Regions from separate parts of the Homo sapiens genome. Here region 2 is linked to region 1. The links come from fine-mapping of genetic effects on gene expression. A gene starts in region 1. The other region holds a variant in brackets. All regions are shown on one strand. Distances are between the middles of the regions.

Region 1 (2,500 bases):
AATTTTTTTTTTTTTTTTTTTTTTGAGGCAGAGCTTCCCTCTTGTTGCCCTGTCTGGAGTGCAATGGCGCAATCTCGGCTCACTGCAACCTCTGCCTCCCGGTTTCAAGCGATTCTCCTGCCTCAGCCTCCCGAGTAGCTGGGATTACAGGCCTGCGCCACTAGACCCAGCTAATTTTGTATTTTTAGTAGAGAGGGGGGTTTCACCATGTTGGCCAGGCTGGTCTCAAACTCCTGACCTCGTGATCCGCCCACCTCGGTCTCCCAGAGTGCTGGGATTGCAGGCGTGAGCCACCGTGCCTGGCCAAACCCAACTTCTACTCTACCAAGCTACAGGACATTAAATTGTTAAGCATGGGAATGATGTGATGGATACAGTGTTTCAGTAAAGTTAACTTTTAAAAAGGCTGGAGGAAGATATGCTAGATTACGTTTTGGGGTAATTCAGTTATGAATGAGGGAAACTTGGGGCCAAAATGACAGAAATATGAATGGAAGAAATGAGGAAATGAGTCATTTCTTAACTTGCACATTACCTTGCACTTTGTAAGTTCATAAATTTAATAAGATAAACTTCAGTAAAGTCTTCTGCTGGGTATTCATCTAGAGCATTGTACTGTTCAATTGCACCATATAAAGCGAATCGCTCAACTAATTCCTTCATGACTCCCACAGCAGGAACTCCTTGTATTAATAAGTACTGAGATTCCAAATTGATTGTATATACCTGAAAGAAATGCAGAGTTATTAAACGTATTTCGCAAATAAGCCTAGGACGAATCTGCCTCTATTTTTTTTTAAAGAGAACTTTGAAAACAAGAAATAATCTGTTCAACCCAGTCAGCAAAAGAACACAAAATGAAATTTCTGCCATTCCTTCTGCATAAAGAATAACAGTCCATGTGAGAGGCTACCTAAGGCATATAACAGACTACCTTCAGTCGACATTTTTTTCCAGAAATTGAGTCGGTAGAAGTCACTGGGAACAATCACTCAACGAATATTCACTGAGTGCTTACCTGTGCCAAGTAGTACTGTAAACACAGAAGATCCAATGACTAAAACCAAGGCCTATTCTCGTGGAGTTGATGTTCTAATACTTGACCAAAGGCGTCGTGAGAATCTTTGGTAACTGACCGAGGGTTCTTCACGCCAGCTCTAACGAGAGACAGATCTGACGGAAGCCTTGTCGTGCCTTTATTTCCGTAGGCTGGTCATATGGCGCTAGCACTCACATAAAGCTACCGAGGAGAGCGAATGAAACCAAAATCACTTTACCTTCACAGCACGAGGCCGTCGTCCCTCTCGATATTTGGCCCGTGTGTCGCATACCGCCCTCTGGACGTGGTGATCAAATAAACTCCCTAGCTCCCCGCCGCTCGACGCCATCTTGCCTACTTTGATCCTCGCAGGGAGGACAACATCCGCCCTACTGAGCTCCCTTTTATCCAATAAGAGAGCGGGATGAGTTAAGGAGTGCCAGGATTGGCTGGAGAATCGACAGCGTCGGCCATCGTTTCCTGCGTGCGAAGATTTGATGAACGAGGTGCCGCCCCCGAGCGGCTCGGCGGAGAGGCGCGGTGGGTGACAGAAGCTTTCTTGTCCCACCCACTACAGGCTTACGGCAGGATGCGCAGCGGGGAGAGGGGGCGGGGCCGCAGGGGGCGGGGCCGATCGATCTCCTCCGGCTCCGACGTCCTCGGCCTGCCGGGTCCCGGGTCCTTTGCGGCGCTAGGGTGGGCGAACCCAGAGCGACGCTCCGGGACGATGTGGGGCAGCGATCGCCTGGCGGGTGCTGGGGGAGGCGGGGCGGCAGTGACTGTGGCCTTCACCAACGCTCGCGACTGCTTCCTCCACCTGCCGCGGCGTCTCGTGGCCCAGCTGCATCTGCTGCAGGTAACCTGCCGGCCCCGAGCCACCTGATCTTCAGCCTGGGGTCGGACGAGGCCGAAGCCTCTCAGGGACGCGGCGGGACACCGGCTGCCACCCGGGCGCCGCCGAAGCGCGCAGAGATCAGGGTCCCTCGACGGCAGGGCCCTTCTGGGTAGTCTCTGGATCCCACAAGTCCAGTGCAGCCCTGGGCTCGTCTTATCCCAGGTCTTTTCACTTGGTGAAACTGAACCTAGAAACGTCCTAATATTCTACCACTGTTTTTATAAATATTCCTTATTCCAGGCTGGAAAAGCTCCTGAGAAGTGGTTTGTTTTTATTATTTTAAAAGGTGTTTTCCTTGCCAGCCATTTCCAGTTAACCTGCGCTGCTGCCGTCCGGGCCGCGAGAGCGGGACGCAGAGTTGTTGGCGGAGCCCCTGTCGGTTCCCGGGGACTAAGCACCGCGTCCCATGAGCGGGAAAGGTTAATACAATGATGGTTCTGCCCTGCGTCGCTGACGCGGAACACAGCTGTAGTGTGTTAGGAACACATAACGTAGTTAAGATCACTTGAAGCTCTGCGATCAGTCGCCCTTCTGGACGTTGTGGTTAGGATGTTTCACAGTTCTAA
Region 2 (3,030 bases), 57 kb before region 1:
TATCAACATTCGCCAGCACCAGCAGGGTGGTACATTTGTTACATTTCATGAACCTACATCGACACATTATCATCACCCAGAGTCAGTAGTTTGCATTAGGGGTCACTCTTGGTATGCATTCTTGTACAGTTTTTATAACTGAACGTTTTAATTCAGGACTTGTAAAGGGCTCTTAAGTTCATGATGGCCACCTTTTGTGCTTGTTATTTTCCGAAGTGTTCTTCATGTTCTTTTCTGCTACTTTGGGACCTCTAAAATAGATGTATCCTCTAGATAAAAATAGGTAATCAAATTGACAAATGAAATTCTGCACATTGTGTCTTTAGCCAGTTTTACTGCATTGCTCTTTTTGTACCTGCCCCCATACATATCCCCTTGAGACCAATTTGCCATCCTGAGTTTCAGAAACAAATCATTTTCTGTTATCTGAACTCATGCAGCAGTTTGAAGCCACAGAGAATTCTAGTTACATATGGATGTGAATGTTTGATTTACAAGGTCACAGTGTTTATAATGATTAAGTCATAGTGAAATGTTTCAAGAAATTGCACAATCTCTATATTTTAGTGAATGCTTAACCATGCCACCCACTTAATGTTAGAAGCATTATTTTTCACACTGATACAAAAATGAAAACTCCTGTACCTTTGTGAAAATAGTTGCTTGTTTTAAAAGCTTTCTGTTGTGCATAGTTTTAAAGAAAAGTATTGTTGCTTAATGAATAAGAGCAGACTATCAAGTGTTTTGCATGGAGCCTAGAACATAAGATGCACTTTAAAAAATATTGCTATTATAATTGAAATAAACAATGGAGATATTTGGAGTGTACTTAAGCAGACTGAGATAGTGTTTGTGGTCAAAAGCTTAAAAGTAAGCCTTATTCAGCAGTAGTTCATGTAATTGTACCCGTAGTCCTAGCATGTGAATATACTACTTTACTAGCATTTTCCTCTGAAAAGTAGGAATAGGTTGGTATGTACTTTATGAAAGCAGTTTGATAGTACACAGTAAGATGTAAAAATATTAATGTACTTTAAAGATACATGCTAGATAACTTGAAGACTGTAAAACATGGTAAATGTTATAATTTTTTTCATTAGAATGAAAAATTGCCACTGCATTATCTGTGAATTTTTACATAAGGACAGTTCAGCTCTCTGAGTTGGAGTGGCAGTATTGTGGTTGGATTTTTGTCATTTTCTTTACCTTTATTACTATAATAATGTTTACGCAGTTACATTTTTTGTTTTATAAAGGTAATCATTATTTAAAATTTTTTTCTCCAGTGTGTGAATGAATATGGATGTTTTCCTTTATATTTTGGTGCACATGCAGTCTAATTTTTCTGATTTTTAAATTTTTAGTTATTTATTAAAATAATTCTTTCATTTTGGCAACTTGCCTTTGCTTTTCACTTGAGAAATCTTAAACATTTTCTTATCAGGAACTATGGATCTACTTCATTCATTTTAGTAGCTACGTAATATTTAACAGGGTGTGTACTTTAATATATTTAGCGAATCCCAGTTTG[A/T]TAGCTATTTGGGTGTTTTCAGTGTTTGCTGTTTTAGTAATTTAGACCTGAATATCCTTGATATGTGTATATTTGCACTCTTTGGAAATAAACAGTTTTTACAATTCTAACCTGAAATATTTTGCCATTAGGTACTGCCAAAATTATGACATGATACCAAGGAAATTAGAATGTGATCAATATTGTTGAAAACAAAAACAAAAACCTGAGACCAGTTAAATTTAACAAAGGTAATTTGAGCAAGAAAAAGATTCTAGAACTTGAGGAAGATGTTCTACATCCTGGTGACCTATATTTGCAATAGGAAATGACATACAGAGATTACCTGATTGGTGCAGTTCTGAGTTTGCCTTATTTGGGCATAATTTGGCAGCCTTCTGTTTGGGATTGGTTGAGGGTTGGGCTCCTGTGATTGGCTGAGACTCAGTTGATTGGTTAAGAGGATATACTCTTTGATTAGGTTAGAACTTGTTTGCACATCAAGCCAGGTTGCAGTTCACCATATACAGAGGGTTTTTGTTTTGTTTTGTTTTGTTTTGTTTTGTTTAGTAGAGACAAGATTGGTCTCTCCTGAGCTCAAGCTCCTCCCACCTCACCCTCCCAAAGTGCTAGATTACAGGTGTGAGCCAGTGCACCTGGCTTTTTGGGCCAAATTTTATTACCCAAGTAGGAGGACGCTTTGAGCCCAACTTAACTGTGTTGAACAGTACAAATAATACTCCTGTTTTACAAACGGTGAACTAAGCTGCACATGGTACTTGCCTTCATTGTCTTCATTTCTGCCTTCATTGTTTGTCATACTTCCACACCAACTAATCGAAATGCTTAGCAAAAGCAGTTGAATGAAATATTTGAGGGTATAACAGTTTATACAAAAAATATAACAATATGCCTCTGTCTTTAACATTGCATATGATGTCCACATCTTGCCCTGATTCTGTAAACATTCCTTACATGAGGGGCTCTAGCATTTGTTCCTGCTTGTAGAGAAGTATGTCAAAGATTTATCTTTTTCATTCCAAGTAATTAGGTTTTGTCAGTTGAATGGTAATAGTTCTCAGTATGTGTTGTTTATGCTGGTTTTATATTGTTTACTCTGACAGAGAAATCTGGAAGTATATAACTTTTATCTGTTATAAAGGTGGGAAATGATGGTCATTTTCATAGATTTTGTTAAAATGCAACAAATATATTTTTTCCTTTCACTTATTTTGGATTATTACAAGGTATAACACCTTAAACCAACCTTGAGGGTAGTCATTTTCAATCAAAATTCTTTTTATTTAAAAAGTAGAAGAGTTTCATAAATGTCTATTGACTGGGCACGGTGGCTCACACCTGTTGTCCTAGCTACTCAGGAGGCTGAGGTAGGGGGATTTTTCAAAGTTGCAGTGAGATATGATCACACCACTGACCACTGTACTCCAGCCTGGGCAAAAGAGCAAGACCCTTTCTTTTTTTTTTTTTTTTTTTTTTTTTTGAGACAGTCTTGCTCTTTC

What was found. PIP is the estimated chance that this variant, and not a neighbour inherited with it, causes the effect.
Region 2: its variant is fine-mapped to the expression of RBM48 in whole blood (TOPMed, PIP above 0.99). The same link has a PIP of 0.9 or more in cerebellar hemisphere.

What each region holds. Positions count from the first base shown.
Region 1 is chr7:92,527,702-92,530,201 of GRCh38, reverse strand. It overlaps RBM48 (RNA binding motif protein 48), which reads right to left and starts at 1,407. Exons shown (of 5, transcript NM_032120.4): 1 at 1,278-1,407; 2 at 536-726. The coding sequence starts at 1,388. It overlaps PEX1 (peroxisomal biogenesis factor 1), which reads left to right and starts at 1,682. Exons shown (of 24, transcript NM_000466.3): 1 at 1,682-1,895. The coding sequence starts at 1,767. RefSeq lists enhancers at 1,104-1,483, 2,084-2,263 and a silencer at 1,624-1,853.
Region 2 is chr7:92,584,029-92,587,058 of GRCh38, reverse strand. All of the region lies in intron 1 of FAM133B (family with sequence similarity 133 member B), which reads left to right. Among named protein-coding and RNA genes, the nearest start is that of FAM133B, 4.8 kb to the left of the region's middle. The variant A/T (reference allele first, on the strand shown) is at 1,532.